Linked DNA regions of Homo sapiens. Changing the gene in region 1 together with any one later gene gives a genetic interaction. Each region holds a gene or a part of one and is shown in the gene's direction. Other genes may lie near its edges.

Region 1 (4,222 bases):
ACAAAAATTAGCCAGGCGTGGTGGCGCATGCCTGTAATCCCAGCTACTCAGGAGGCTGAGGCAGGAGAATCGCTTGAACCTGGGAGGTGGAGGTTGCAGTGAGCCAAGATTGCGCCACTGCACTCCAGCCTGGGTGACAGAGCGAGACTCCGTCTTCAAAAACAACAACAACAACAACAACAAAAGAATAGTATAACACTCATATACTAACCACTCGTTAAGAAATAAAACATTACTAATACCGTTGAATATTTGAGTGCTTATGATGTGCCAAGAATTGAGATAATTGTCTACATAGCAGAGAACAAAACACAAGAATTCCTGTCCTCGTGGAGCTTGTGTGGTCACAGATATTAGGTAGAATAGTTATTAGATCTGAATGCAAATAAAGAATAAATAGGTACTGTCTGACAGCATAAATGGTATTCTATCAGTGCATTTGGCTTGGCGAAGTTTATTTTGTACAGACTAAGACATTCAGTCTTTAATGTTTGGTTTCGTTGCCTGGTCAACATTATCCTATTGCTGGTGACCCTACATACATTACGTCTGTAAGAGGAAAAGATTCAGGTCACCTCAAATAATGTTTTTGTGTGTCTATGTATTGCACAGTTGAAGGAAATATAGCTTATCTTTTAAGGCATTTGAAAGGAAATTGACTTTGTAGTTTAAATTCAAAAATAAAACCTTCAAGAAAAAGTGACACCTTAGATTCAGTAACAGAATTATAGATTCATTCTTTCTTGTGATGAGCTTGAAAACTTAAAAAATTCTGGTATACTATACTGAAAACTAGATGAAGTGGTACCTTATATAATTATAGATTTAATATCTCTTGTGATAGACTAGAAACTTAAAAAAAAATCTGTGGTATACTATAAAGAAAACCACAAACTATAGTACTATGAAAGAAACCAAGGTATGTAGAAATGAATAAATACACATCAAAGTTTGCATTAGAAAATATAGTACCCTCAGAACATTATTTTCATTTGGTATTGTTGTAGGTATCGTCAGATCCTGGAAAAAGCCATTCAGTTATCTGGAGCAGAACAACTAGAAGCTTTGAAAGCTTTTGTGGAAGCAAGTAAGTGAAATGGAAATTTCATGCTTGCCTTGTATTACTGAGCTAGGACTTTAAAGTTCTCTCAAGCCTTGTTTTGTATCAAATTATCAATATTAAATATGCATTGAGATTGATTGATTTTAGAATTTAAACTGTTTACAACTTGATTAATTTTCAGTGAATTATCTTCAGAATTACAATCCTAATTAAAGTTTTGTATGTTTATTGTTATAATAGCTGATAAGGGACAATATAGCATAATAGTAAAGAGAATAGTTTGGATTCAAATCCTGGTATGCTATTTTATGAGCTGTGTGATCTTGGGTCAATTATTTAACCTCTCTGTGCCTCCTTTTCCTCTTTAAAATGTACTCTGTAGTACATCTAATGTACCTAAAATGTACTCTATAGTACATTACTGTACTACAGGGTAGTACAGTACTGTACTTTGAGAAGTGTCTGCTTATGTCCCTTGTCAATGTTTTAATGGGGTTGTTTTCTTAATGTTCAACATCACTAATCATCAGAGAAATGCAAATCAATGTGGGATGCCATCTAATATTAGTCAGAATGGCTACTATTAAAAAGTAAAAAAATAACAAATTCTGGTTAGACTTCAGAGAAAATGAAATGCTTATACACTGTTGGTGAGAATGTAAATTAGTTCAGCCACTGTGAAAAGCAGTTTGGAGATTATTCAAAGAATTTAAAGCAGAAGTACCATTCAACCAGCAATTCCATTACTGAGTATATATCCAAAAGAAAATTAAAAATTCCACAAAAAGAAACCCCACATGCACTTGTATATTCGCCATATTGCTATTCACAATAAGGAAGGCATGGACTTAACTTATGTGTGAATCAATAAATTGGATAGAAATATGTGCCACATATACACCATAAAATACTACGCACACATTAAAAAGAATACAATCATGTCCTGTGCAGCAACATGCATATGTCTGTAGGCCATTATCCTAAGGAATTTTATAGTGAGTTCACATGGAATTTTATAGTGAGTTCACATCATTAATGATATCTGATAGTGCTTTACAGTGTGTTCTCACACACATTACCTGTCACATAGGCTCCTTTTAATAACCTGTGACTAGAACGTATAGGTACAGGTATCCCTGTATAATATATTGTAAGACAAGTCTCAGGATTGAGTAACTTTTTTTCAAGGACATTTAGCTGGCAGAGCCCAGATCAGAAACTAGGTTTTCTGATACACTGCTCTTACTTGCTTATATTTCCCTGAGTAATACCAGCTTGTATGGTAACTTAAATGCCTAATGACACTTGTAATGAAACTGTTTTCTCAGTCACATCCTGTATTACCCAATAATGAATTCCAATTAATATGTGATTAATTAATTACAACTGCCTTAAAAAAATACTGCCTTAAAAAGTTACTGCCTTAAAACTTAAAAGGTTACTGCCTTAAAAAATCATGGCCTCCGGTGTGAGATAAACTAGCAATGGTTTCCAAAAAACTGTTAGGAGTGGTTTATTAAGAACTTTGCACTGTAGTAGCAGAAGAATAATGCTTTTTATAACTTTGATCTTGGCTGGGCACGGTGGCTCATGCCTGTAATCCCAACACTTTGCGATTACAGGTATGAGTCATGGCACCCAGCCAAGGGATCACTTGAGCTCAGGAGTTCAAAACCAGCCTGGGCAATGTGGAGAAATCTCGTCTCTACAAAAAAATACGAAAATTAGCCTGGCGTGGTGATGCATGCCTGTAGTCCCAGCTATTGGGACGCTGAGGTGGGAAGACTGCTTGAGCCCCGGTGGTCGAGACTGAAGTGAGCTGAGGTTGCATCACTGCGCTCCAGCCTGGGCAGCAGTAAGATTGTCTCAAAAAAACAATTAAAAAACATATATATATATATTTTTTGATCTTTGTATAAGCTTTGAATCCAGTAAACCACCAGGAAAAGCAGTCTACTGTTAAAATCATTTACATCAACTGAACAGTTTTTGAATCACTTATTTTCATATTAACTGCTGCTTTAAGACTTGAATAATTGGCCGGGGCCATGGCTTACGCCTGTAGTCCCAGCACTTTGGGAGACCGAGATGGGCGGATCACGAGGTCAGGAGATCAAGACCATTTTGGCTAACACGGTGAAACCCTATCTCTACTAAAAATACAAAAAAATCAGCTGGGCGTGGTGGCGGGTGCCTGTAGTCCCAGCTACTCAGGAGGCTGAGGCAGGAGAATGGCATGAACCCGGGAGGTGGAGCTTGCAGTGAGCCAAGATGGTGCCACTGCACTCCAGCCTGGGCGACAGAGCGAGACTCAGTCTCAAAAAAAAAAAATAATAATAATAAAAAAGACTTGAATAATTTATCTAAGCAATAGTTTACAAGAATGATGCATTTAAAATGATAGTTATAATAGTAACATTTGTTGAGTGCTATGTACCAGGTATTGTTTAAAGTGCTTTGTGTATATTATTGCATTTAAGCTTCATAACAACCTTATGAAATAGATGTTACACATGAGGAAACAGAAGCACAGAGAAGCATAGAGAAGTTAAGTTTCTTGTCTGAAGTCATATAATCAGTAGTGGTAGAAGCAGTGTGGCTCCAGAGCTTAATCACATAAAATAATACCTCGTAAATGTTTATAAATAATGTCAATACATCTAGTGCTCACTGAAGTTCTTATTTATTGTTTTTATTGGGAAAGTATAAGTGGCAATAACTGTACTGGCAGCACTTGCTTTATTTAAATTTCATGAAAATTATTTTACTGTTTTCTTTTTTAACTCCTTTTTGGAACAAGGTAGGATATAAGCACATAAATAAAAATATAGGTGTTTTTGTGCCTTCACTTTGTAGAAAAATGAGATAAAATTATCAACTTTTAAAACTTTTTTCAATTATTTCTGTTTCTTAGAAAAGTTGTGTTATTTTTACTGTTTTTTAAGATTTTTTAATTAATTAATGAATTAATTAATTTTGAGACAGAGTCTAGCTCTGTTGCCCAGGCTGGAGTACGGTGCTGTGATCTCGGCTCACTGCAACCCCAGCCTCCCAGGTTCAAGCGATTCTCTTGCCTTAGCCTCCTGAGTAGCTGGGACTACAGGTGCCCACCACCATGCCTGACTAATTTTTTTTTTGTATTTTTAGTAGAGACAGCGT
Region 2 (4,222 bases), on another chromosome or scaffold:
ATTAGATTCTGTGAGATATAATTTCTGTCCTTAGGGACTTCACAGATTGTTTTTATGTGGAAACTTTTTCTTTTATTCGACTTTGTTACTAATTTTTGCTCTGTTTAAAACAACTTTCTGGAAAAAAATTCATGTAAAAGAATGGAAAGTTAGTTTGCCTAGTGGTTGGTATGGTGTTATTCATAAAATCACATTGTGGTGTGTTCTTGGATGCAGAGAATCTTAACAATCTCCCTTAGGCACAAGTTTATCATAGTTGGCAACAGTTTTTATTTCTGAAGAGAGATGTTGTTAGAAATCCCAGGCTCTAAATAAGGGTCAAAGGGAAAAGTTGAGCATTCAGGATTCTGTTCAGAATTCACATCTGGTAGGTGTGGATAGTTTTTCACTAAAAAAGGTTTCCAACAAATGACATGCCAAACTCTTGACACAGTAAAACTTTTGCCTGAAGTCAGTTAATCACTCTGCCAGTTCCAATGCATGATTTTTCCAGTGATAACTTCAAGTTACTTTCTGCTTTCTCTGAGGAGAAATATCCCTGATACTTATATCCTGTAGGCAGAGAAGGCTTTTCTTGGAGGTCGAATGGCAATTGGGTGGTAAATGAATTTGGAACTACTGAAATTTTTATACCGTCAACATTCATGCAAAAAAAAAAACTATTGAGGGCCTTTTTTTCTGCCATACATTTGAATTGACTTCAAACTTCTTAATTTCTTTTAGTCACTTAAAGGTTTTTCACATTTTCGTGGCCCAAGCATAAAGATCACCTATCTGCAGGATTCAAGACACCCAATCATTTGAGTAGTTCTGATAGGACTGCTTTACAGATACGTTAGCAGAGGCCTTTCAAAAAGGGAGTGTTTTTGTATGTTAGAAGATACTATAAAGCCAACAAGCAAATATTTGCAACTTATATGAAAAAGAACAAATGAGAAAAAAACATACACAAAATATAGACAAGGACATGCAAATGTCCAACAAATGGGAGGAAAAAAATCCAGCCTCACTAGTCATCAGGGAATGAAAAGTAAGGCAATGAGATAGCCATTTTGTACTCATCATATTGGCCAGAATGTAAGAGATTGTTGCCATCAAATATTGGCAAGGATTTTGGAAATGGGCATTCTCAAATATTGCTGATGGAAGTTTGAGTGGCTACACCTTTTTTGCAACCTATTTGATGAAAATAAAAAGCATTCATATACAAGGATATACTTAAAGGGCTGCTTCATTTATTATAGCAAAATGTAAAAGCAGCCTGTGTCTGATATTATGCAAGAGAATAGTTACATAGAAACAATGGTACAGGTTGGGCGTTGTGGCTCATGCCTGTAATCCCAGCACTTTGGGAGGCTGAGACAGGCAGATTGCTTGAGCCCAGGAGTTTGAGGCTTATTTGAGCAACATAGGGATACTTTCTCTCTACAAGAAATACAAAAATTAGCCAGGTGTGGTGGTGCCTTTGTACCTGGAGGCTGAGGTGGGAGAATCACTTGAGGTTGAGGCTATAGTGAGTTGTGATCATACCACTATACTCCTGCCTGGGCTATAAGAGTGAGACCCTGCCAAAAAAAGAAAGAGAAGGAGAGAGAGAACCCATATTTCCATATCTTGTATCTAAAAAGAATGGCTAACATTTACATATATTAATCTCAAAGGATAAAAAGAAAAAAATAAAGTAGTATGTAAGATATATTTCTGTAACATTAGCTATCTCAGGGAGGGTAAGAGAATATTATAAGCTTTTACTTTATATGTATTTGTATTGTTTTAGTTATTTAAAAATTTTTGAATAAAGTAGAAACAATAGTTCAGAAGTCAGTCCATGTCTTTCTCTAACTCATTCAAGATAGATGAATTATTAGCTTGTACCTCAAAATCTCCCAGCATGGAAGTTCTCTAGCCTACTGTGGCCATTTTTTCTAGCATGGAACAACATGCTATGTTGAGGGATTTCTTCATTAAATCTAATTTAAATTGTCCCTGCAGTCAAAATTTTTTCCATATAGATAATATGGAAAACAGCTGGTTTCATCTTTATATCAAATTTTTTCATAAATATTAAGGTGTAAATTAATGGTCAACTGACGGTGGAGAAATAAAGCAGGGTTTGGTATTGGAATTGGTCAAGTTCAATAATGGATTGTTTCCTTCAGGCCCGACAGGAGATGAACTGCCTTTGCTGCTTTTCTGCCCAGTTTTATACTCACTCTTCTCGTAAAAGTGTTGCATCAGGAACCTTTTAAGAAGTGCTTAAATTCAGATTCACTTGTCCCTAGTAATTCATTCATAAAGCACAGGGGTTCATTTAAACGTATGTTGTAATCCATTCGGAAAATCTAAAATGTTGTTTTTGCTGAATATTTTTCCCCGTGGTGGACCTAAGGGTTTGCTTTTTTCCCCCCATTATATGAGAAAATTGAAAGGATATGCTTAGGAATTACCCTTGTTCTTAAAAAATGGGGGGTGGGTATGCTTTGGGGTTTTTTTGTCTGTTTTCTCAGCTTTCAAATAATGAGGAGTATGGGCAAATAGCATTACTGCCCATTGAGCTGAACACAGGATTATTTTTATTTCCATATTTTTTCCTTCATCAGGGCTTTTGTTTGGGGTAGAGTATTAATAACAAGTAAGATGTGACATGGAGCTGTCTTCAGTTAGATTCACGTGAGTCTTATCCAGCCTTTCACAAACTGAGGAGAAAGAATTAACGTGTATAGCAGGAAATTGGGGGTGGGAGGAGGAAGGGGAGTGACTGCTAATAAGGTAGGGGATTTTTGGAGGGAGGGTAATGTAAATGTGCTATAATTGACTGTGACGATAGTTGGCCAACTCTGATACACTATGAACTGTGGAATTGTAACACTTCAAATGGATAAATTGTATGCTTTGTGAATTATTTATCAATATAAAAAAATGAAAAGGCCCGGTGCACCTGTATTATCTGTGCTTGTGCTTATGGAAATATTTTAAATTATTGGCTCAAAGATAAATGCTAGCAAGTCTGGTAAGTATAACTCTCTGGGCTATGTCAGGGACCTGGCTCAAGTCTCCCCTGCAAAGATCTTCTCCCCCTGTGTTCATAATCTTAAACAAGTATTAATTACACAAAAAAAGTTGTACTCATGAAGCCTATGTGCTACAGTCTTCTGAGAAACCATGCTCTAAGAAAGGATGGTGGTTCAGATTAAAAGGAGAGGAAGATTATGAACTGAAAAATACAGCTTCATTTTTAGTGTAAAAATGGAATATTCTAATATTTGCAAGACTGCTGCTTAACAATGTCAGCGTTGATTTACTCCACTGCAGAGCTTTAGGCTTTTTGACATTTTTATTTATGACTCAATCGTATTTCAATCTGGGTATTAGCGGGAAGCTGATACCAGGAAAAACCTTTAAAACCCAAATCGTAATTTTCTCCTAGTCTTTTTGGCAAGTGTGCCGTGGGTAGACAGTAGGTTGGAGATGGCCATTGCTACTGCCAGCTTAAAATAGGAAATGGTCGCCATTTGATAAAGAGTGACAGGTTGGAAAATTAGGACCTGTTTTCTAAATTTTTATTTGTATTTTAGTAATGTCATTTCTTGGTTTTGAGGCTTTACATAGTACCAGGGCAAGATTCACTTATTCAATTGTAAGAATACAAATCTCAGAGCTACATGATAATGATTTTGAGATAATCTTACACCTCTAGTATTCCAATAGCAAAAATTGAGATAATATTACTTTTCTTTTCTCTAGCTGGTGTCATAGATGAAGATTATAGAGGAAATGTTGGTGTTGTACTGTTTAATTTTGGCAAAGAAAAGTTTGAAGGTATGTTAAATATATACATTCACATAATTTTAGTGAATTTTCAGAGTCATGTATGTGTAAATTAATATTGACTCCTTTAATTCTCATTGAATAAGACAGGATATGGCGAATGTGTCAGTAACGTCAGTAATAAACTATTCTTTCTTTGAAGTCAAAAAAGGTGATCGAATTGCACAGCTCATTTGCGAACGGATTTTTTATCCAGAAATAGAAGAAGTTCAAGTAAGTATTACAAAGGAAGATACAGAATAAGTAATATAACATCTTAAGTGAAGAAATATATATAATCTTGAGAATTTAATATGCTGTTTGTAACTAAATAGTATATATGACTAAACTTATTTTAAGCAAATTTAAAATACTAGTTTTAGAATTTCTTTAAATGTTTTTCATGTAGCTATTA
Region 3 (4,222 bases), about 69 Mb from region 1:
AAAAGAAGATGAGGACATCATCACCTCTGTAGAAAATGAAGAGTGTGATGGTCTCATGGCAACTACAGCCAGTGGTGATATTACCAACCAGAATAGCTTAGCAGGGGGTAAAAATCAAGGCAAAGTTTTGATTATTTCCACCAGTACCACAAATGATTACACCCCTCAGGTAAGCGCAATTACAGATGTGGAAGGAGGTCTCTCAGATGCTCTGAGAACTGAAGAAAATATGGAAGGTACCAGAGTAACCACAGAAGAATTTGAGGCCCCCATGCCCAGTGCAGTCTCAGGAGATGACAGCCAACTCACTGCCAGCAGAAGTGAAGAGAAAGATGAGTGTGCCATGATTTCCACAAGCATAGGGGAAGAATTCGAATTGCCTATCTCCAGTGCAACAACCATCAAGTGTGCTGAAAGTCTTCAGCCGGTTGCTGCAGCAGTGGAAGAAAGGGCTACAGGTCCAGTCTTGATAAGCACCGCCGACTTTGAGGGGCCTATGCCCAGTGCGCCCCCAGAAGCTGAAAGTCCTCTTGCCTCAACCAGCAAGGAGGAGAAGGATGAATGTGCTCTCATTTCCACTAGCATAGCAGAAGAATGTGAGGCTTCTGTTTCCGGTGTAGTTGTTGAAAGTGAAAATGAGCGAGCTGGCACAGTCATGGAAGAAAAAGACGGGAGTGGCATCATCTCTACGAGCTCGGTGGAAGACTGTGAGGGCCCAGTGTCCAGTGCTGTCCCTCAAGAGGAAGGCGACCCCTCAGTCACACCAGCGGAAGAGATGGGTGACACCGCCATGATTTCCACAAGCACCTCTGAAGGGTGTGAAGCAGTCATGATTGGTGCTGTCCTCCAGGATGAAGATCGGCTCACCATCACAAGAGTAGAAGACTTGAGCGATGCTGCCATCATCTCCACCAGCACAGCAGAATGTATGCCAATTTCCGCCAGCATTGACAGACATGAAGAGAATCAGCTGACTGCAGACAACCCAGAAGGGAACGGTGACCTGTCAGCCACAGAAGTGAGCAAGCACAAGGTCCCCATGCCCAGCCTAATTGCTGAGAATAACTGTCGGTGTCCTGGGCCAGTCAGGGGAGGCAAAGAACCGGGTCCCGTGTTGGCAGTGAGCACCGAGGAGGGGCACAACGGGCCATCAGTCCACAAGCCCTCTGCAGGGCAAGGCCATCCAAGTGCTGTTTGTGCGGAAAAAGAAGAGAAGCATGGCAAGGAGTGCCCCGAAATAGGACCATTTGCAGGAAGAGGACAGAAAGAGAGCACTTTACACCTCATAAATGCAGAAGAGAAGAATGTATTGTTGAACTCCCTTCAGAAAGAAGATAAGAGCCCAGAGACAGGGACAGCAGGGGGCAGTAGCACAGCAAGTTATTCAGCAGGAAGGGGCTTAGAGGGGAATGCTAACTCACCTGCCCACCTGAGAGGACCAGAACAGACGTCTGGGCAGACGGCTAAGGATCCCTCTGTCAGCATTCGCTATTTGGCAGCAGTAAACACCGGTGCTATAAAAGCTGATGACATGCCACCTGTTCAAGGGACCGTGGCTGAGCATTCCTTTCTTCCTGCTGAGCAGCAGGGGTCTGAAGACAACTTGAAAACCAGTACCACCAAATGTATTACTGGCCAAGAATCAAAAATTGCTCCTTCCCACACAATGATCCCTCCAGCTACTTACAGTGTAGCTCTGTTGGCTCCTAAATGTGAGCAGGACTTGACTATAAAGAATGATTATAGTGGCAAATGGACTGATCAAGCATCTGCTGAGAAAACAGGAGATGATAACAGCACAAGGAAATCATTCCCTGAGGAAGGAGACATAATGGTTACTGTGTCTTCTGAAGAAAATGTGTGTGACATAGGTGAGAATCTGTACCTAATTGCAAATTTTAATATTTACAAGGATGATTGTACAACAGAGTGCATTTAGGACAGTCTTCCAAAAGATGGTTTTGGTTCCAGAAAGATAAAATATCTATAAATTTTTTTCTCATATCATAATGTTGCAAAATAACTCTCATCAAACTTGAAGGTCAAACTTCTCTAAAAGCTACTTGTGTTTAAAAGTTTAAAGCCTTTGGCCCATTTCTCATGTGTGGGGAGAGAAAAAGCAGGAGGCTGAGGCATGGGAAGTCCACATGTTATTTACATGACTGCTGCAACTTACTAAACCTTTTTGACCTACAGGTTTTTTGTCAATCAAAAAGAAGAATACCCTACCACAACCCAATGAAAGCAATACATTTTTTTTTTACCACCCTCATTTTACAAACGAGGAAATAGGGTCAGAAAATTTAAATAGCATTCATGGTCCTCGGGTGACTTTTAGAGGAAAAATCAGTTTCTGAGCCTCCATTTCTTGTTGTATAAAATGGGGATAATAAGACGGGATGATAATACAAAGGCAAACACGATTCCAACCCTCATCTGATCATAGGTTTGCAGTATTTGTTTGTTCAGTCTGTTAGTTCCTTTGAATCAAAGGAGCATGTTATTTTTAACTGAGCTTATTTTTCAGGTGAAATGAGTTTCTAGTTTAGAATATATTTGAAAGTGAAAAGAAACATTTTTCCCTGCTGACAGATTTTGGACAGTGCTGGTCTTTTAGAAATAGTTAATAACTTTCAAAGATATTATCTCAGTCATGCCTTATACCGTCCAACTTCAGATACTTTATACCAGTCCAGATTGGAGAAAAGTGGACAGTGACACTTTAAAGCATGACAATTGCATAGACTGGGATTAAGCACAGGATGCTGTAGGAACAAAAGGGTCCTCATGGGCTGGACTTGAAGGGACAGAGGAATTCTTTTCCACTCTGGCTATATAAATTGTAGCATCCTGGACTTTTAACTGAAATAGACCTTAGCCATCATCTAACCCAGTCTCAGGAAGCTGAGGCTAATAGATTTAGTCTTGTTCATTATAGAGACTTAGGAGACTTTAAGAAATGCTCCAAGGGTTGAAACAAGTAACTTTACAAGTTTCTGTTGAATTTAGCCTGGAGTAAATTGAATGCTCCAGAAGTTTTTATGACTCAATCATTGCTACAATTACTCATTCCTCCTTTTTTCCTGAAGAAGTGAAAATAGAAGGGTTTCCACAGAAGCTTCTACACAATCTAAAGAAGGATATAAGAGGCAAGACCAGAGTAGAACTGAATCTCTGCACCTGAGAAAATTTTTTCTTTTTGTCTACCTCACAGTTTAACTTTGTGTTCAATTTTTCTGTGTTCAGTGTGAAGCAAGTAAAGTGAATCTGTTAATAAATCACCTTTACTGAGAATAGACCTTAGTGACTCAGAATATTTTTAAGGACAAACTTGATGGAGATCACTGCAGAAAAATACTTGGAAATGAAGATGTCTCCACAGATAATACTTTTGTCATTCTTTCTGGGCAGTTATCTTACTGTGCAAATAAGAATTTCACTCACCCAAAATGAGCAAATAATCCCTGCCTTTCATCCAGATTCTTTTATACAACATATTCCTTTTGATCATTTTCTACTGACAGCAAAATAAACCAGAAAAGGAAGGTGCAACAGCATGTCAGATAACCACATTCCATTACTTTTTGACCCCAGATGTATTTTGCAAGCAAATTCTTAAACTGTACTAAATGGCTTGAATTTTATTAGGCAATGAAGAGTCTCCATTGAATGTTTTGGGAGGATTGAAACTGAAAGCCAACTTGAAAATGGAGGTATGGCTTATAATTCAGCTGTGCTGAACTGTAAGTGATTAAATACTGTTTCATCACATATACACATATATATACTTATGTGGTATATAGGTCCTGTTCTCATTGTACTTATGATATTTAGTGTTGTTATTGCCATATCCTGTGGGGGGAAAGCTAAGAACCTCAGTAATCTTAGTAAATAGTGCTATCATCAGTTCATTTACTCAAGCCAGAAACACAAGAGTCACCCTCAGTTTCTCCGTCATCCCACATTTAATCTATCGCCATTTCTTACAGGTTCCATTTCCAAAATATAACATGAGTCCATCTATTTCTGTTTCTACAGTCATCACCCTAGGCTAAGCCACTACTTCAGTAGCCTCTCCATTAGGCTTAGTTCACTCCAGCCCTCCTCCAGTGTGATTCACACAGTCCTGCAGGTAGTCATTAGAAACATAACTTAGGCCCTGTCATTGCTCTGCTTAAAATTTGTGGTGGCTTCCCATCATGCTTAGAATAAAATCTGCTTT
Region 4 (4,219 bases), on another chromosome or scaffold:
CTCCAGAACTTTATTTCATTGTTATCTTCAAGAGGATAAAAGGAATCATGTTATTCGATGTTTACTAATAGTGTCAACTTAGTGCAAGTCTCATTAAATGCAATACGACTAGCAATGTGTGTATTAATGTTTTGATTTTAGTATATGTTCTGAAAGCACACAGTATGTGCTGTTTCATTTTCCTCAGTACCACAAATTTTAAGCAGAAATTAAGTAAGTAAGGGGTAAATTTTTCCTAAATTATATACTTGGTTTCTCTATCTTATTGCTCACTTTCCATACTAATAATAATGGCAAATGTTTGTCTGCTTACAAAGTGTTAACACTGTGTTAACATCCTTTAATAAGAATGATTTCATTTATTCCTCCTAGCAGTGCATTGAAATAGATGCTGTTATGTTTACATTTTTGCAAATGAAGAAAGTGAGGCACAGAGAAGTTCAGCAGCTTACCTAAGGTCACTCTTTTGTGCCATTCTTTACCAAGAAACTTTTCACTGGAACAAAACTTACCAGAATATTTACTCTGAGCGTAATATAAAGACGTAGGGACTTCAAAGGAAGTAAAGGATCTGTTTCCACTTCTAAGGCCCCAACAGCTTTCCTCCCCTCTGTTCACATTAAAAGTTTTCCTAAGATCATCATCATTGTCCCTTCCCTTACCCTGCTGTCCATCAGGTTTTGTTCTTATTCTACCCTAGCCAAGTACTAGTATTATTCTGACTTTGTGAACCCAGCAGGTTAGTGACAAGTTTTGTGGGAATGTTTTTTGGTTTAGTTTTAGTCAGATACTTAAAATTATGCCTGAAAGCAAAAGGTAAATGTGAGCATAATAGAGTTCTATCATAAAAGTCTTACATCACAGACATTTAAGAAAGATACCATTTTGTTCCAGAACCAGGTTTTACCAGTTCTTAGTTCAGTATGTTTCCACGACGCTACTGTTTGTTGAGAATCCTATTAAGAGAATTTTGAGTGTCTTTTTTTTATTACATTGCATTTCTTGAATAATTTCCTACTTTAAGATGGTATGTATAATCCATATATCCAGTAGATTTAAAAATACAACAGGAACATCCTCCCAACACAGACACAGCCTAGAGTTAATAGATACCCAGCATTGGAGTTCCCTTTGTCACTTGAGTTTTGCCACATTGTTTGGGTTCTTCTTGTCAATGGAGGCCTCTTTTTCAGTCATTTGCAAGGCAGCCATTTAGTTTTTTACCTATGAGTGTTAAGCTCAATCATGAAAAATCTTTTAAATAAAACTCCGATTTTACCATATGCATACATTTAAAATATTCAAATTGGTAGTAGTTCACATCTCCAGTAACTTTCCAAAACAATTTGGAAACTTAAAAAAATTGTTGCTATCTACGATGCCAAATGGCTCAAATAAGTTGCCTTATTTATTAACTTCTTTTATTGATTTATTGATTGAGACAAGGTCTCACTCTGTCACCCAGGCTGGAGTGTAATGTCATGATCTTGGCTCACTGCAGCTTCTGCCATCCAGGTTCAAGTGATTCTGATGCTTCAGCCTTCCAAGTAGCTGGGACTACAGGCTCCCACACCACCATGCCTGGCTGATTTTTGTATTTTTAGTAGAGACGGGGTTTTCCCATGTTGCCTAGGCTGGTCTCAAACTCCTGGGCTGAAGTGATCTGCCTGCCTCGGCCTCCTGGAGTGCCGGGATTACAGGCTGAGTTACTGTGCCTGGCCTAATTGCTAATTTTTAGAATTTAGGATATGTCAGTTTCTGTGCTTCTATCCCAGATTTTAAAACATAATTTCCTAGGCAAATTTTTAGTTTTGTAAGTATTTGCAAAATATATAATTAGTCTAGACATGTGATAAACTTGTTGAAAATAAAGGCCTTTCTGTCATAAAAGTCAGAAGAAGGTAGTACATGACATCCTTGCTTTGTTCTTCTGTTTAATTTTAATTATTGATGATTTTTTTCATAAAAATTATATTTGTCAAAAACATTATAAGTAATCAATTCAAACAAAAAGAACTTTGCGTTTTTAAACTGTGGCTTTGTTCTTAACCTGTTTTTGGAACATAAAATAGTTTTGAATTGCATTTATAATGTATATTATTTATGCCAGCAGATCTTCCTAAAACTCAATTGAATTTTATTATTGTAAGACTCAAAAGAAAAACTGATCACAGTTAAGATGTGAATTGTGTTTTTAGCCCGTGGGTTTTGCATTAATTGGCCCAGTTTTGATGAGACTTTGGTTACAGCACAAACCTTAGTTTAGCCCTTCACTCCTGCAGAGACTGGAAGAGACCATTCCTATCTCTGCACACGGAGCTCTTCTTGCTAAAACAGATGGAGGCATTCTTGCTAAAATATATTTGTGCTAGTAATTGTCCTGAAAAATAATTAAAAGCCCTAGCCATATGCATTTTCTTTCTGAGATAAAAACTTATTTTTAATTGTATTCTGAATTACTTATAACACATTGTTATTAGAGCTCTGGTTTCAGCTACCAACTGTAAAGAAAAACTTTAGCCTTTCTAGAGTTCTTTAGAGAGCAGTTCATTTCTTCGAATCATCACACAAAAATAATTATCTCTGGTGTTGTTTTAATAAAAAGAAGGCAAGCTCCAAGTGAAGGGAGGAGAGTGGGGGTAGAGAGGATGGATTCAGGCTTGAATAGCTGTGAGAAGAATGCTTTACCCAATGAGCCCAGCGCCGGGCTTTTTTCCCCTAAGACCTCGGAAGTGAAATTCTTATGCTGATATGGTTATAACTGATTACCAGCTAGTCAGCACTTCAGTGAATTTAAAGTTTTATTGAATTCCTCCTAACATGGTCAGTGGCCCCAAAGCTTCTGATGTTCAAGTATACTGGAGCATTTGCCTCTGTTTATTCTTTGTAGTGCCTTCCATAAAATAGAAGTTATGGAAAGTGCCTTAAGGAGAAAGTAAAGTCTTAAATGGTGATTGCCTTTAGAAGGTATATCCTTGCTACATTGTTTATGTGACAGTTTTTAATTAAGTTATGATTTAGTACATTATACCTGTTGCTTTGCATCTGCAAAGTTAAAATAGTCACTTGAAGACAATTAAAACATTTCTTTCGACTAGTAATCTGCGACAGCAAACTGGGTTATAATAGCCGTTGAATCTGTGTTCCCATGTAAACTGTACACCAAATGCCAGTCAGCCCATGCCAATTAGTGCTCATGTTGCTAGGTCACCGTGGTCAATTGAAAGCTGCATCAATAGAACTTGAAAAGGTTTCCTCCCAATCAGACCTTCTGACATATTGAACAGAATAATGGATGGGAAAAAACAGCCAAGTCTCCTACCCTGGATTCAAAATACTCAGCAGTAAGAATTCATTTGCAACCTGCAATTAAGTAGAAAGAATGGATCCAAGAACGAGTCTGGACATTTTTGAAAATAAAGCCTCATTCTCCTGTCTTGTACATGTTTACTCTTTGGATAGCATCTTAAATGTAGCCATCTTGGTGATCTTGGGTCTACATCTTTAAGTGACTAAAAAGGAAATTTCCCAATTGAAAATGAACAAAATAACTTTTAAAAGTCAGAACTTCTCAGTTGAGTTTAAACATCCATTGTAATAAATGCTGATGCTTCATGAAACATGTTAGATTATACTGGATATAAGGGACACAAAGGCCATTCTGATACTCTGTATCCCATATGATAAATCCAGGTAAATTGGATTGTACTAAAATTTGGAGATGATACCTGCCGATTTTAGGCTTTGTGCTGTATAATAGGTGTGGCTTCTGATGTAAAACTGGTACTTTCCTACAGAGGCGTTGGGGCTGAACCTCTGCTCCCATGGAACCGGATGCTGCAAACCCAGAATGCAGCCTTCCAGCCAAACCAGTACCAGATGCTAGCTGGGCCTGGTGGGTATCCACCCAGACGAGATGATCGTGGAGGGAGACAGGTAAATGGTTGTGGGATGAAAAGTATACTGCTCACTTTATATTTCAACAAGCCTCACAGGACTCCGTATTTTCTTACCAACATTTCTGGAGAAGACACTGATAGAGTAGCTTAGAGTAGCTTGGCTGAACTTGGGTCTGTCATTAAAAATGTATATGGGTTGAGTACCTGCTTCACTAAATAGGTTATATACCTTGAAGATGCCAAAGAATTTCTAACCCAAAAGCCCTTTAAATCATAGCAGTCAGTGATAATTAGTCCAAGTATAGTCAGTCACCAAAACA
Region 5 (4,222 bases), on another chromosome or scaffold:
TATATTTGGGATGTTTCAGAATAAAAGGAATCTCATTGGGGTTAAAAATTATCCAAGCAGAGAAGAAGGCAGAAGCCAAGATTATGTAGGCCTTGTAGACTATACAAGCAATTAAGGTTGTATTCTTTTGGGATGGACTCCAGTGGAGGATCTTAAATGGAAAAGTGACATTACTACTTTTATGAACGAGCACTCTAACTTTTCTTCTAGATGGAGGATAAAGTAGGGATACAAGAATGGAAGCAGTGAAACCATTTAGAAGGTCATTTCTTTGGACCACGTAAGAGATACATGATGGCATGAATTAGGGTGATAGCACTGAAGAGAGAGAGGGAGAAGTTGACAAGTCTTAGGTATCTTTTAGTGACAGAGCCAGCAAGACTTGCTGATGGATTTGACATGAAGGATGAGAGAGAGAACCCCTAAATTTTTCACCTGAACAAATTACGATGCCATTTACTGGAATGGAGAAGATTGAAGGAGAAACAGGGTTGCTTAAAGTGATAGGGAAGGTGGGTGAAATCCAGATTCTGTTTCACCATCTTAAATTTAAGATGCCTATTAGAGTCAAGTGAGGATATCGAGTAAATAAATGTTGGACACATGAGCTTACATCTCAGTAAGTCAGAGATTCAACAGAGGAATATTTGAAGGTCTATAGAGGTTGAACTGCTTTCTAAGAGGTTAAAATAATAAGTTTAAGATATTAGATTAATATGTCAAGATCTTTTTCAGGGTTTCAGGATTCATTTTGTACCATGTAGTATATAGCCTTTGCAGGTTGTGCTAGGCCAAACAATGTACTGATTGCCTCCCCTCAAAAAAAAAAGTATATGTTCTAATTTGTCCCCATGGCATGGACTCAGAAGATAGTACTGTGGTGAAATTCAACTGTCAAAGTAATTAGATTCTCAGGATGCTTTTTTAGTTCTTCATAAGTGCAGTATAAAGTTCTAACTTCTTGCTCTCTTTCAATGCCCCACATATTCTGGACCCATTCTACCAATTCAGCAAGTACCCACCATTCCAAATGGACACAACTCCTCACTCCCCATGGTATGCAGTACTCATTCTTTTTTCCCAAGCTCCTGTTTTCCCTCTGCCTTGCTCCTCCCTAGCCATTTGCTTTAAGGCCCGGAGATGAATTCTAGGCCTTTGAATTCTCTTAACTCTCCTGTAGCATGAACTGATACTTCTTTTCTCTAAATTCCTAGCCTATATGATATGTACTGCTTGTTTTAATACTCAACATCAATACATTGCCTTAAAGTGTTATCCAGTACATACATTTTGTTTTCTTTAAAGTACAAGCTTTTGAAGGCAAATGACCCTGTTTATTATTCCTTTGTATTCTTGTGTGCCAGCATGCTGTTGAACAGATAGATAACTTATTCAGCAGATTATTTTTCTTTTAACTATTTGAATGGAACTGTTTTCATTGTATCTATAATGACGGGCAATTTTTTTCTTAGGTTTTCCAAGACCTTCCAAACACATTGGATGAAATTGATGCTTTATTAACTGAAGAAAGATCAAGAGCTTCCTGCTTCACGGGACTGAATCCTACAGTATGCCTGTTTCTCTATTCCCATTCTGCATCCAACCACCACCACCACCCTCCCCATACACACACATACACACACAGAGTTCCCTCCAGTACTTGCCTCCCACTCTGTACTAGAGCTCTTGGTAATAATAAGCTAGACAGCAGGAACAATGTACTTTAAATGCCAGATTCTGAATCTATTAGAATTTTAAATAGATTCTTCCTAAGGAACACAATGTTCTGTGCCTTTTCTTTATAAAAAGAATAGTTGGGCTAACCTGAAATACTGCAATGTCTATTTTTTCAAGGATAAAAAATGTCACTTTCAGTATGTAATAAGAGCATATATTATTTGCATACAAACAATGCAGCACAATTGGCATTTTCATTTAATGTTTTAATCAATGCAAAATTGTATATAGTTTTATCCTTTGGTAGATTTATCTTAAAGAAGTTTTTTTTTCCCCTGCCAGATTGTTCAGGAATATACAAAAAGAGAAGAAGAAATAGAACAGTTAACTGAGGAACTAAAGGGAAAGAAAGTTGAACTAGATCAATACAGGGAAAACATTTCACAGGTAATTTTTTAGTTTTTAATCTTTTTATCATGTGATTATTAATGAAATGGGAATGTAGAATAATGGAAAATGAGATGACATGCTTCTAAGAGAAGTGTGTTATGCCCAGACTGATACTGATATAAAATTTACATAAAATTGTGTGTCAGAATATAGTAATACTGCTTTTAAATTGTGTTTTTATATTGCCTTTATTTGTAGGTAAAAGAAAGGTGGCTTAATCCTTTAAAAGAGCTGGTAGAAAAAATTAATGAAAAATTCAGCAATTTTTTTAGTTCCATGCAGTGTGCTGGTGAAGTTGATCTCCATACAGAAAATGAGGTAAAATTGCATTTGAAATAAATAATATTTCTGGCAAATAATTTTAATTATATGCTTAAAGTACATATAAATTATTTATTTACTTTTGAGTTATATCTGTGAAAAGTTTTGTTTACCAAAATGTTGAAAGAAAGGAGAAAACCACCTGTGGGATTCCATTAGGGTCACTTTTTTTGGGGGGGGTTATGTTTGGAATTAGTGACTAATACCTTGTAACTCTTTTTATACATCTGAGTAATGGTTATTCAGTTGTATTGAATAAATACGTTATAAAGCTACCACAGCTGGAGTTAGAAGACTCAAACAGATTAGTTTGAAATATAGTGTATATCAGTGTCTTTTTTTTTTTAATAAAGAATTTAAGAATTCATGGTCAGGTGTGGTGGCTCACGCCTGTAATCTCAGCACTTTGTGAGGCTGAGGCAGGCAGATAGCTTGAGCTCACGGGTTTGAGACCAGCCTGGGCAACATGGCAAAATCGCATCTCTGTAAAAATACAAAAATTAGCTGGGTGCGGTGGTATGTACCTGTGGTCCCAGCTACTCTGGAGGCTGAGGTGCAAGGATGACTTGAGCCTGGAAGGTGGAGGTTCCAGTGAGCCAAAATGGTGCCACTGCACTCCAGCCTGGGCAACAAAACCAGACCTTGTCTCAAAAAAAAAAAAGAATTTAAGAATTTATAAGAATGGAAATAGTGGGAAATTTGCTACTAATTTCTTGTGCTGTAAGTTTATGCATTGCAATTTGGGCTAAAATTAATTTTTCTTTAAGACAGGCAAAGGCCAGGTGCTGTGGCTTATGCCTAATCCCACTTTGGGAGGCCAAGGCAGGAGGATCACTTGAATTCAGGAGTTTGAGACCAGCCCGGGCAACAGAGTGGGACAGAGACTCTGTCTCAAAAAAAAAGTAACTACTAGAAAATTGAAAATTACATATGTGGGTTGTATTATATCTTTCTCTTGCTCAGTACTATCTTAGACCTTAAAGCTCTATTCAATTAATAGATAACCTTTAATTAGTAAGTTTCATGTTTTTCGTTTTGGTTTTTTGAGACAAAGTCTCACTCTCACCCAGGCTGGAGCGCAGTGGCGCAATCTTGGCTCACTGCAACCTCCACCTCCTGAGTTCAAGCTATTCTTCGGCTTCAGACTCCCAAGTAGCTGGGATTACAGATGCCTGCCACCATGCCCGGCTAATTTTTGTATTTTTAGTAGAGATGGGATTTCCCCATGTTGGCCAGGCTGGTCTCAAACTCCTGACCTGAAGTGATCCACCCCCCTCGGCCTCCCAAATTGCTGGGATTACAGGCATGAGCCACCACACCCGGCCTAATTAGTAAGTTATGTATCTCATTTTTAAGGTAAATCTGAACCTGACATAGAAGTGCCATCAATAAGAATAGTAAACCTTAGAGCATCCTCAGTTTTGGCAACATTTATAAAACACTAATGTACTCATTACAACAAATATTTATTGAGCACCTATTACGTGCCAGGCTTGCTTTTTGCTGAGTATTGTGTGTATGTATGACTTAAGTTTTCAAAGTATATGTGTAATTCCTACCTTGTTTTTTTCCTTCTTAACCGACTGAAGAAGTTAGGGGGATTCTTGGCCCTCTGCAGTTACCATACACAACCACTTCTCTAGCACAAGAGAGCATGACACTCCATTATGTTCTAATTGCTTTCACCTACAGTTTAAGAACCTAGCATTTTGGAACTAGAATAGATAGTGCTTTTTGAGGACAGAGTTCCTCGCTCAGTAATTTCTAAAAACTC
Region 6 (4,222 bases), on another chromosome or scaffold:
TGGTCCCTGCTGCATGGGAAGCTGAGGTAGGAGGATCGTTTGAGCTCAGGATCTGGAGGCTGCAGTGAACTGTGTTCATGCCACTGTACTCCAGCCTGGGCAACAGAGCGAGACCCTGTCTCAAAAACAAAAACAAAACAACCCAAAAAACAAAAACTGAAGTAGACCATGTATCCAGACATGAAGAAATGTTCATTCATGAATTTAGTATGTAATATTGAGGGGTTTGAGTAGTTTAGGTAAAAGTGTATATTTGTTAGTCAAAGATACACAGAGATAAGGACTTTTTTTTTCTCTCTCTATTTAGGAAGTTTGCATCTGTTACTGACAGTGCTCAAATTGTTCTGGGTATATAGGATAAAGTTGAGCTAGCAAAAAAGGTAACATTAAGTTTTTGGATAGGCATAAAACCTCTACATTATCTTTGTGGAAGATCTTAATGGGACTGAAGTATGGATTAAAATAAGTTAATGAAGTGTTGTAATTGCAGTGTGACCCTTAATGTTTAACTTTTAAGCTTTATTTTTTGTTTATTTTTTAACCTTTGAAATTTCCCTTCTCTATAGCAAAGTTTGTGGGCTCTGTCCAGCTTGTCAAATTTTGAGTTGTGAATTCTCTGAAAAAGATACCACTGAATTGATTTGTTATTGATACAGGCCATACCCTTTAATTTGTGGCTAAAATGGTTGAAGATGGTAATAACGATATGTAGCAAGTACTTCTAAACTATCCATATTATTCCATTTAATCTCAGCAACCTCAGGGTAGGTTCTTGTGTTCAAGGTTAAATAATTTGGGCAGAGTGTCCTGCAAGGATGATGTGTGTGAAAGGCCATTTTATTGAGGTGGAGCAATCTGATTGTTTCATCCTGGAATGGTAAATTAACAAACAGTTCCCAGAAACCATCTAGGAGTTCTTTTGTTTGGGCCGTGCCATAAAAGCACATAGAATATATTACTTAAAATAATCTTAGAAGTCTACTTTATCCCTTTTACAAACCAAAAGAGCTTTCTGTGTGTGGAGCCATTGAATGCAATACTGAAATTAAGTTCTTTGATTTATAACAGGGCCTTTTTTATGTAAGTTAGTACAAAGTGAAGATAAAACATTTACCAAAAGTTTTGAATCAAAAAAGAACAGTGCTTTATTGGAGAGAAAAAAAATTGGCCTGGCATGGTGGCTCATGCCTGTAATCACAGCACATTGGGAGGCTAAGGTGGGCGGATCACTTGAGGTCAGAAGTTCGAGACCAGCCCGGCCAACACGGTGAAACCCTGTGTCTACTAAAAATACAAAAATTAGCCAGGCGTAGTGACTCATGCCCGTAGTCCCAGCACTCTGGAGGCTGAGACAGGAGAATTGTTTGAATCTGGGAGGCAGAGGTTATAGTGAGCCGAGATTGTGCCACTGCACTCCAGCGTGGGTGACAGAGCGAGACTCTGTCTCAAACAAACAAAAAAAAAGAAAAGAAAAATTGACATGCTAAAGTGTTTTTCTTTGAAATTTCAGATTTTTTTCTAATAAGCACACGATTTATTATTTTCATTTATTTTAAAAGTATTTACTGTGTGCTAGGTAGGAAGGAATATGAAGAGAGTAAGAACATGGTCACTTTCATCCAAATAATAGTCTAGTGGGTATGATAGACGTGTATGTAGCAAATATGTTACGAAAAAAGTAATAATGTTCTTATTATATACATGGAGTGATTTCTCTGAGGAGAATATGGAAATATTAGGAAAGAAAATACCATTTGTATAGAACTTAGAGGAGGAAATTCATATCCTTTCCTATCTATATGTGTGGTTATTGTTTTAAGAGTGACCTTTTGAGGCCTTATATATTCAGCTTCTGTGATGTAATAGTAACATTTGCAATTTTAGCTGACACTTTTGGTATTATTCTTTCTTTAAAAACTTGGTGCCGGGCATGGTGGCTCATGCCTGTAATCCCAGCATTTTGGGAGGCTGAGGCGGGCAGATCACCTGAGGTCAGGAGTTCGAGACCAGCCTGACCAACATGGCAAAACTAAAAATACAAAAACTAGCTGGTTGTGGTGGCAGGCACCTGTAATCTCACCTCCCTAGAGACTGAGGCATGAGAATTGCTTGAACCTGGGAGGCGGAGGTTGCAGTGAGCCGAGATCGCACCACTGCACTCCAGCCTGGGTGACAGAGTGAGTGAGACTCCGTCTCAAAAAGAAAAAAGAAAAAAACGTGGTTACAGCCTCTTTTTTTTTTTTTTTTCCATTTTATATACGGTCCAGTGAAATTTTTTTTTTCTTTTTTTTTCTTTTTCATGCAGCTTCTTAGGGGACACAAAATTTGCTGCTTAATCAGCACACACAGGAAGAAGGGGTTAAATGAAGGTTCTTGCATCCCAAGGATGAATCTTATTGTGTATATTTCAGCCAAGACCTGTGGAGTAACACCATAAGGTTCTGAGCTCTAAGAGTGGGATAATTTTTTACAGTGGAAAGTGGCCAGGAATCATAGCATTATTATGCTTTATCTGGGAGGAAGAACACTGTTCAGATTTTCTCTTAATTAAAGCAATACTTAATTAGACTTATGTTAATTTGGACCATTAGCAAGGGTTGACATTTAAGGTTAAATGACCGTTTACCAAAAGTTATTACTGAAATCAAAATACTTAGGCAAAAATATTCCTTCTAAATTTCCTATAAGTAAACTTACTGTGAATTTACTTTTATGTTTGAAAATAAGTTATGTAGATCATATAGATTTATAATATGAATTATAATTTAAATATTTTTCCTGTAGGCCTAAAGATATTGGAAGACCTAAGGCTGAAGTTGCTGCAGAATTTCTAAATGACAGAGTTCCTAATTGCAATGTAGTTCCGTATCCTTTTGACAAAAAGAAAATTACTTAATTTTTAAAAGCTTTTTTCCTTTATTATAAGAGATATTTAACAGAGAATACAGATAAGCAAGAGGGAAAAAAAGTCAGCAGTAGTAACTTTATTACTGAGATAACTGCTGGTAACATTTTGCTATCTATTCTTCCAGTCTTTTCTGTATGGTTATATAAATATTTTTTGGGCCCTGATTTTTAACTTAAGTTTATAAAGCCTGTTTCATCATCTACTTTATTTTGCATTATTGCCCTTAATTTCAGTATCAATTACATATCTCCTTTACTAGAGTGTAAATTCCTAGGCTGGATCCAATTAATCTTTGTTTCTTTATAGTAGCAGACAGAGTAGACAGTCAATATAGTATTAGCCAAATGGAAGGTACATCACAGTAAATTTATTTTTACAAGAAATATGTTTTTAAAAAGGAGTATTTACACTGTAGTTTGAATTTAGATCTGGAGAACTTTTGGCATTTTATAGAAAGTCAGAAGATGTGATTTCTATGTAGAAAGTCCCACAGAATACAAAATCAACATACCGGTGAACTTGTGAAAGTTAATGTAAAATACAATGCCATTTACAACTGCTTAGAAAGAAAAATAAATACTTAGATGTAAACTACAAGATAAGTAAGAGATTTATATAGTGAAAAACTACAAAATGCTGATGAAAGAAACCAAAGAAAATCTAAATAAATGGAGAGATAGTCCATCTTCAAAGATTGGAAGATTAAATATAGTAAAGATGTCATTTCTCCCTAAATTTGTATACATATATACCATAGTTTCTATTAAAATCCCAGCAAAATTGTCGATATAGACGATCTTCTAAAATTTTATATAGAAAAGCAAAGGAATACCTACTACAAATCTGAAAAAGAAAGTGGGAGGAATCACTATCCAAATTCTAGACTTATATAGCTATAGTAATCCAGACTCAGTGGCGTTACCAGAGGGATATATAGATGACTAGAACAGAATAGGGAAGCCAGAAATAGCCCCATATAAGTATGGCCAATTTGTTTTTGATAAAGGTGCAAAACAGTTCCAATGGAAGAAGCATAGTCTTCAACAAATCGTACTGGAGCAATTTCATATCCATAGTTAAAAGATGAATTTTGACCTAAACATACAAAATTAACTCAAAATGGATTATAGGTGTAAATATAAAATATAAAATGAGCCAGGCGTGGTGGCTCATGCCTGTAATCCCAGCACTTTGGGAGGCCGAGGTGGGTGGATCACTTGAGGTCAGGAGTTCGAGACCAGCCTGGCCAACATGGTGAAACCCCGTCTCTACTAAGAATACAAAAATTAGCCGGGCACAGTGGCTCCCAGCTAC
Region 7 (4,222 bases), on another chromosome or scaffold:
TAATAGTAACTTTCAGCAGAAGCGAAATGCCAAAGGTGAGGAATTGGGGAAGGGAAGGAAGCTGTCATTTCTTCAAGCTCCACTCCTTGCTCAGCCCTCTATCTACCTTATTTCCCATGACTTTTGCAGTTCTACAAGAGGGGCAGGTGTTAACTATCCCCATTGAGGAAATTGGCTCAAGAGAATTTTGCACCTTATCCAAAGTCTTGAGCTGAGCTGTGGGAGAACCAGGGTTGAAACCAGTCTGTTGTAAACCTGTCCTCTGCCCCGACACAGTGCCTCTCAGTTCCTTTTCCAATGAGGAGGTTTTATTTATTTATTTATTTTCTGAGACAGAGTCTTGCTTTGTCACCCAAGCTGAAGCGCAGTGGCGCAATGTCGGCTCACTGCAACTTTCGCCTCCTGGGTTCAAGCAATTCTCCTGCCTCAGCCTCCTGAGTAAGTGGGATTACAGGCGCCCGCCACCACACCTGGCTAATTTTTGTATTTTGATAGAGACGAGGTTTCATCATATTGGCCAGGCTGGTCTCGAACTCCTGACCTCATGATCCACCCGCCTCGGCCTCCCAAAGTGCTGGGATTACAGGTATAAGCCACTGTGCCTGGCCAGGAGGTTTTATTTTTACTTTTATTTATTTTATTTTATTTTATTTTTTGAAATGGAGTCTCATTCTGTTGCGCAGGCTGGAGTGCAGTGGCATAATCTAGGCTCACTGCAACCTCCGCCTCCTGGGTTTAAGTGATTCTTGTGCCTCAGCCTCCCAAGTAGCTGGGATTACAGGCAGGCGCCACCATGCCTGGCTAATTTTTGTATTTTTAGTAGAGATGAGGTTTCACCATGTTGGCCAGGCTGGTCTCGAACCCCTGACCTCAAGTGATCCACCCACCTCGGCCTCCTAAAGCGCTGGGAGTACAGGTGTGAGCCACTGCACCCGGCCTGAGGAGGTTTTAACTAATAACCTAGGAGATGAGACTGGGCAAATATTAGAAACTGATGCTTAGAAATAAATTTAGAAGGCCGGGCGCGGTGGCTCACGCCTGTAATCCCAGCACTTTGGGAGGCCGAGGCTGGCGGATCACGAGGTCAGGAGATCGAGACCATGCTGGCTAACACGGTGAAACCCCGTCTCTACTAAAAACACAAAAAATTAGCCAGGCGAGGTGGCGGGCGCCTGTAGTCCCGGCTACTCTGGAGGCTGAGGCAGGAGAATGGCGTGAACCCCGGGGGGCGGAGCTTGCAGTGAGCCGAGATCGCGCCATTGCACTCCAGCCTGGGCAACAGTGAGACTCCGTCTCAAAAAAAAAAAAAAAAAAAAAAGAAATAAATTTAGAAATACTCAGAGGCATGTCTTCCCAGATGCTGTGACTCAGAGTTTAAGGATTTCTGTTTTGTAGTATTGATTCTGAGACCTTGAACTTCTTTCTGATTCCTTAAAGTTGTAATTATACTTTTGAAAATTGTTATATCATGAGGAATTTTTTTTTTTTTTTTTTTTTGAGACAGAGTTTCACTCTGTTGCCCAGGCTGCAGTGCAATGGCACGATCTCAGCTCACCACAACCTCCGCCTTGCGAGTTCAAGCAATTCTCCTGCCTCAGCCTCCTGAGTAGCTGGGATTACAGGCATGCACCACCACGCCTGGATAATATTTGTATTTTTAGTAGAGATGGGGTTTCACCATGTTGGCCAGGCTGGTCTTGAACTCCCAACCTCAGGTGATCTGCCTGCCTTGGCCTCCCGAAGTGCTGGGATTACAGGTGTGAGCCACCATGCCCAGCCTTTTTTTTTTTTGAGACGGAGTCCCGCTCTTTTTATCCAGGCTGGAGTGCAATGGTGCGATCTTGGCTCACTGCAATGTCTGCCTCTTGGGTTCAAGCAATTATTGTGCTCAGCCTCCTGAGTAGCTGAGATTACAGGCGTGAGCCACCACGCCCGGCGCCATTATCTTTATAATAGACATAAACAAGAGACATAATAAGAAGGAGACGTAGACGTTCTTTGCAAACCGTTTTCTGTGGCTTCAGGATTCTAACAAGTTGGTAAACTCTTTAATGTGTCCTGAATGTCTGAGGCCACTCTGTCATAGACACATTACCTAAGAGTAGGAGTCCCAGGTTCTTGGTCTAGCTTTGTCACCTAGTCGAGTTCCCAGCAATGCTCTGGTTCTTTCCATCTTTACATCTGTAAAATGGGAGAAAGTAGACCCCTTCTAGCTCAGATATTTTTTCTGTATTGTCACTAACACCTCTGGCCTTTCTGTGGGTCAGACTACCTGTAAAACCTCATGCCGCAAACTTACAAAAAAATACAAAAGCACTTTTAGTTTTTATAGCTTTTGGGACTAGTCATTTATTTTTTCTTTCTTTTTTTTTTTGACACGGAGTTTCATGCTTGTTGCCCAGTCTGGAGTGCAATGGCACGATCTCAGCCCACTGCAACTTCTGCCTCCCAGGTTGTAAGTGATTCTCCTGCCTCAGCCTCCTAAGTAGGTGGGATTACAGGCATGCACCACCATGCCTGGCTAATTTTGTATTTTTAGTAGAGACAGGTTTCACCATGTTGGTTAGGCTGTTCTCAAACTCCTGACCTCAGGTGATCCCCCAGCCTCAGCCTCCCAAAGTGCTGGGATTACAGGCGTGAGCCACTGCACCCGGCCTACTTTTTTCAATGAATGTTTATTGAACACTTAACACTTTGGATTATGTTAGGTGCTATATCAAACCTTTTGGGATTGCAGAGGTGAATACAGATTTGTTCTTTGTTTTCATGGATCTCACAGTGTAGCCAAAATAAAAAAAACAAGCAGTGAAAAAGTAGTGGGTGTTGGGGCAGAATCCCTGGGAACATAAAACTAACCTAGGTTGGGGGCTCAGAGAAGACTTTGTGAGGAAGTGACGCTTCAGATATGAAGGATGAATAGCTGTAAGAAGGGAGAGAGATGAACCGTGTGTGTGTGTGTCAGGGTCTTGCTCTGTTGTCCCAGCTGGAGCACAGTGGCTGTAAGAAGGGAGAGAGATGAACCGTGTGTGTGTGTGTGTGTGTGTGTGTGTGTGTGTGTGTGTCAGGGTCTTGCTCTGTTGTCCCAGCTGGAGCACAGTGGCGTGATCCAGCCGCCTTAGCCTCCCAAAGTGCTGGGACTACCTAATTTTTCTTTTTCTTTTTTTTTTTTTTTTGAGACGGAGTCTTGCTCTATGACCTAGGCAGGAGAGCAGTGGAGCGATCTCAGCTCACTGCAATCCCCGCCTCCCAGGTTCAAGCGATTCTTCTGCCTCAGCCTCCTGAGTAGCTGGGATTACAGGCGCCCGCCCCTATGCCTGGCTAATTTTCGTATTTTTAGTAGAGCCGGGGTTTCACCATGTTGGTCAGGTTGGTCTCGAACTCCTGAGCTCGTGATCTGCCCGCTTCGGCCCCTCAAAGTGCTGGGATTACAGTCATGAGCCACTGCGCCCAGCCCCTAATTTTTCTTAACTGTAAGAGGGAGCAGTCCTTACCTTACAAGGATGTTACGAGGATTTAAAAAAAGGCAAAGACCACAATCCACTTCAGAATCCCTTGGGGCCACATGTGTTTTGGTATTTAAAATTATTTGGATTTCAGAAAGGCAATACAGTGCATATAATGTGCATTACATACAATAATCTAATCGCAGGCCAGGAGCTGCATCCTGCAACAAAACACATTAATATTTCTGCAGAAATATATATATCAATATACATACCAAGTAGAAGAAATGAAGACTGTAAATACCTCATGCCACGAACTTACAAAAAAATACAAAAGCACTTTTAGTTTTTATAGCTTTTGGGGCTAGGAATTGTAGACTTGAATACAGCCATAGTGATCTAATCAATATGGTATTGATAGAAGAAGAGAAAAATGGACCAGTGAAGCAGAATAGAGAATCCTGAAATAAAGTCTGGCATTTATGAGGATTTAATGTGTCTATTGTGGTAATTCAGTTCAGTAGGCAAAGCATGATTTAATAAGTCATGCTGCTACATGAATTTTTTTTGGTTAAAAAAACAAAATTTGCCATCTGTCATACTCTATAAAAATACCAATAATAAAAATCCTGTAAGGAAAACTAGGAAACTATAGTCTTATGTGGGGGAGACTTTTCAGCATTAGAAAACTGGAAGCTATAAAAGAAGAGATAGCTGTTTGCCTTTTCAGATGCTGAAACTTTGTAAATGGTAAAAGACATTTAAGTCAATTGAAGAAC

Evidence for each region.
Region 2: changes in COPS4 (region 1) and DUT together harm fitness more than expected from each alone (negative genetic interaction), as found in Homo sapiens cells (one large-scale study listed by BioGRID).
Region 3: changes in COPS4 (region 1) and BOD1L1 together harm fitness more than expected from each alone (negative genetic interaction), as found in Homo sapiens cells (one large-scale study listed by BioGRID).
Region 4: changes in COPS4 (region 1) and XRN2 together harm fitness more than expected from each alone (negative genetic interaction), as found in Homo sapiens cells (one large-scale study listed by BioGRID).
Region 5: changes in COPS4 (region 1) and SMC5 together harm fitness more than expected from each alone (negative genetic interaction), as found in Homo sapiens cells (one large-scale study listed by BioGRID).
Region 6: changes in COPS4 (region 1) and UBA3 together harm fitness less than expected from each alone (positive genetic interaction), as found in Homo sapiens cells (one large-scale study listed by BioGRID).
Region 7: changes in COPS4 (region 1) and NUDC together harm fitness more than expected from each alone (negative genetic interaction), as found in Homo sapiens cells (one large-scale study listed by BioGRID).

What each region holds. Positions count from the first base shown.
Region 1 is NC_000004.12:83,044,619-83,048,840, forward strand, and holds part of COPS4 (COP9 signalosome complex subunit 4), read left to right. Parts: intron 1-1,007; coding exon 1,008-1,087; intron 1,088-4,222. UniProt on the Homo sapiens protein: Component of the COP9 signalosome complex (CSN), a complex involved in various cellular and developmental processes.
Region 2 is NC_000015.10:48,337,545-48,341,766, forward strand, and holds part of DUT (deoxyuridine 5'-triphosphate nucleotidohydrolase, mitochondrial isoform 1 precursor), read left to right. Parts: intron 1-3,744; coding exon 3,745-3,819; intron 3,820-3,970; coding exon 3,971-4,041; intron 4,042-4,222. UniProt on the Homo sapiens protein: Catalyzes the cleavage of 2'-deoxyuridine 5'-triphosphate (dUTP) into 2'-deoxyuridine 5'-monophosphate (dUMP) and inorganic pyrophosphate and through its action efficiently prevents uracil misincorporation into DNA and at the same time provides dUMP, the substrate for de novo thymidylate biosynthesis.
Region 3 is NC_000004.12:13,596,595-13,600,816, reverse strand, and holds part of BOD1L1 (biorientation of chromosomes in cell division protein 1-like 1), read left to right. Parts: coding exon 1-1,871; intron 1,872-3,648; coding exon 3,649-3,713; intron 3,714-4,222. UniProt on the Homo sapiens protein: Component of the fork protection machinery required to protect stalled/damaged replication forks from uncontrolled DNA2-dependent resection.
Region 4 is NC_000020.11:21,383,071-21,387,289, forward strand, and holds part of XRN2 (5'-3' exoribonuclease 2), read left to right. Parts: intron 1-3,797; coding exon 3,798-3,936; intron 3,937-4,219. UniProt on the Homo sapiens protein: Possesses 5'->3' exoribonuclease activity. May promote the termination of transcription by RNA polymerase II.
Region 5 is NC_000009.12:70,345,594-70,349,815, forward strand, and holds part of SMC5 (structural maintenance of chromosomes protein 5), read left to right. Parts: intron 1-985; coding exon of another isoform or gene 986-1,011; coding exon 1,012-1,056; intron 1,057-1,472; coding exon 1,473-1,568; intron 1,569-2,019; coding exon 2,020-2,124; exon of another isoform or gene 2,125-2,128; intron 2,129-2,325; coding exon 2,326-2,445; intron 2,446-4,222. UniProt on the Homo sapiens protein: Core component of the SMC5-SMC6 complex, a complex involved in repair of DNA double-strand breaks by homologous recombination.
Region 6 is NC_000003.12:69,066,571-69,070,792, reverse strand, and holds part of UBA3 (NEDD8-activating enzyme E1 catalytic subunit), read left to right. Parts: intron 1-2,784; coding exon 2,785-2,865; intron 2,866-4,222. UniProt on the Homo sapiens protein: Catalytic subunit of the dimeric UBA3-NAE1 E1 enzyme. E1 activates NEDD8 by first adenylating its C-terminal glycine residue with ATP, thereafter linking this residue to the side chain of the catalytic cysteine, yielding a NEDD8-UBA3 thioester and free AMP.
Region 7 is NC_000001.11:26,924,243-26,928,464, forward strand, and holds part of NUDC (nuclear migration protein nudC), read left to right. Parts: intron 1-4,222. UniProt on the Homo sapiens protein: Plays a role in neurogenesis and neuronal migration. Necessary for correct formation of mitotic spindles and chromosome separation during mitosis. Necessary for cytokinesis and cell proliferation.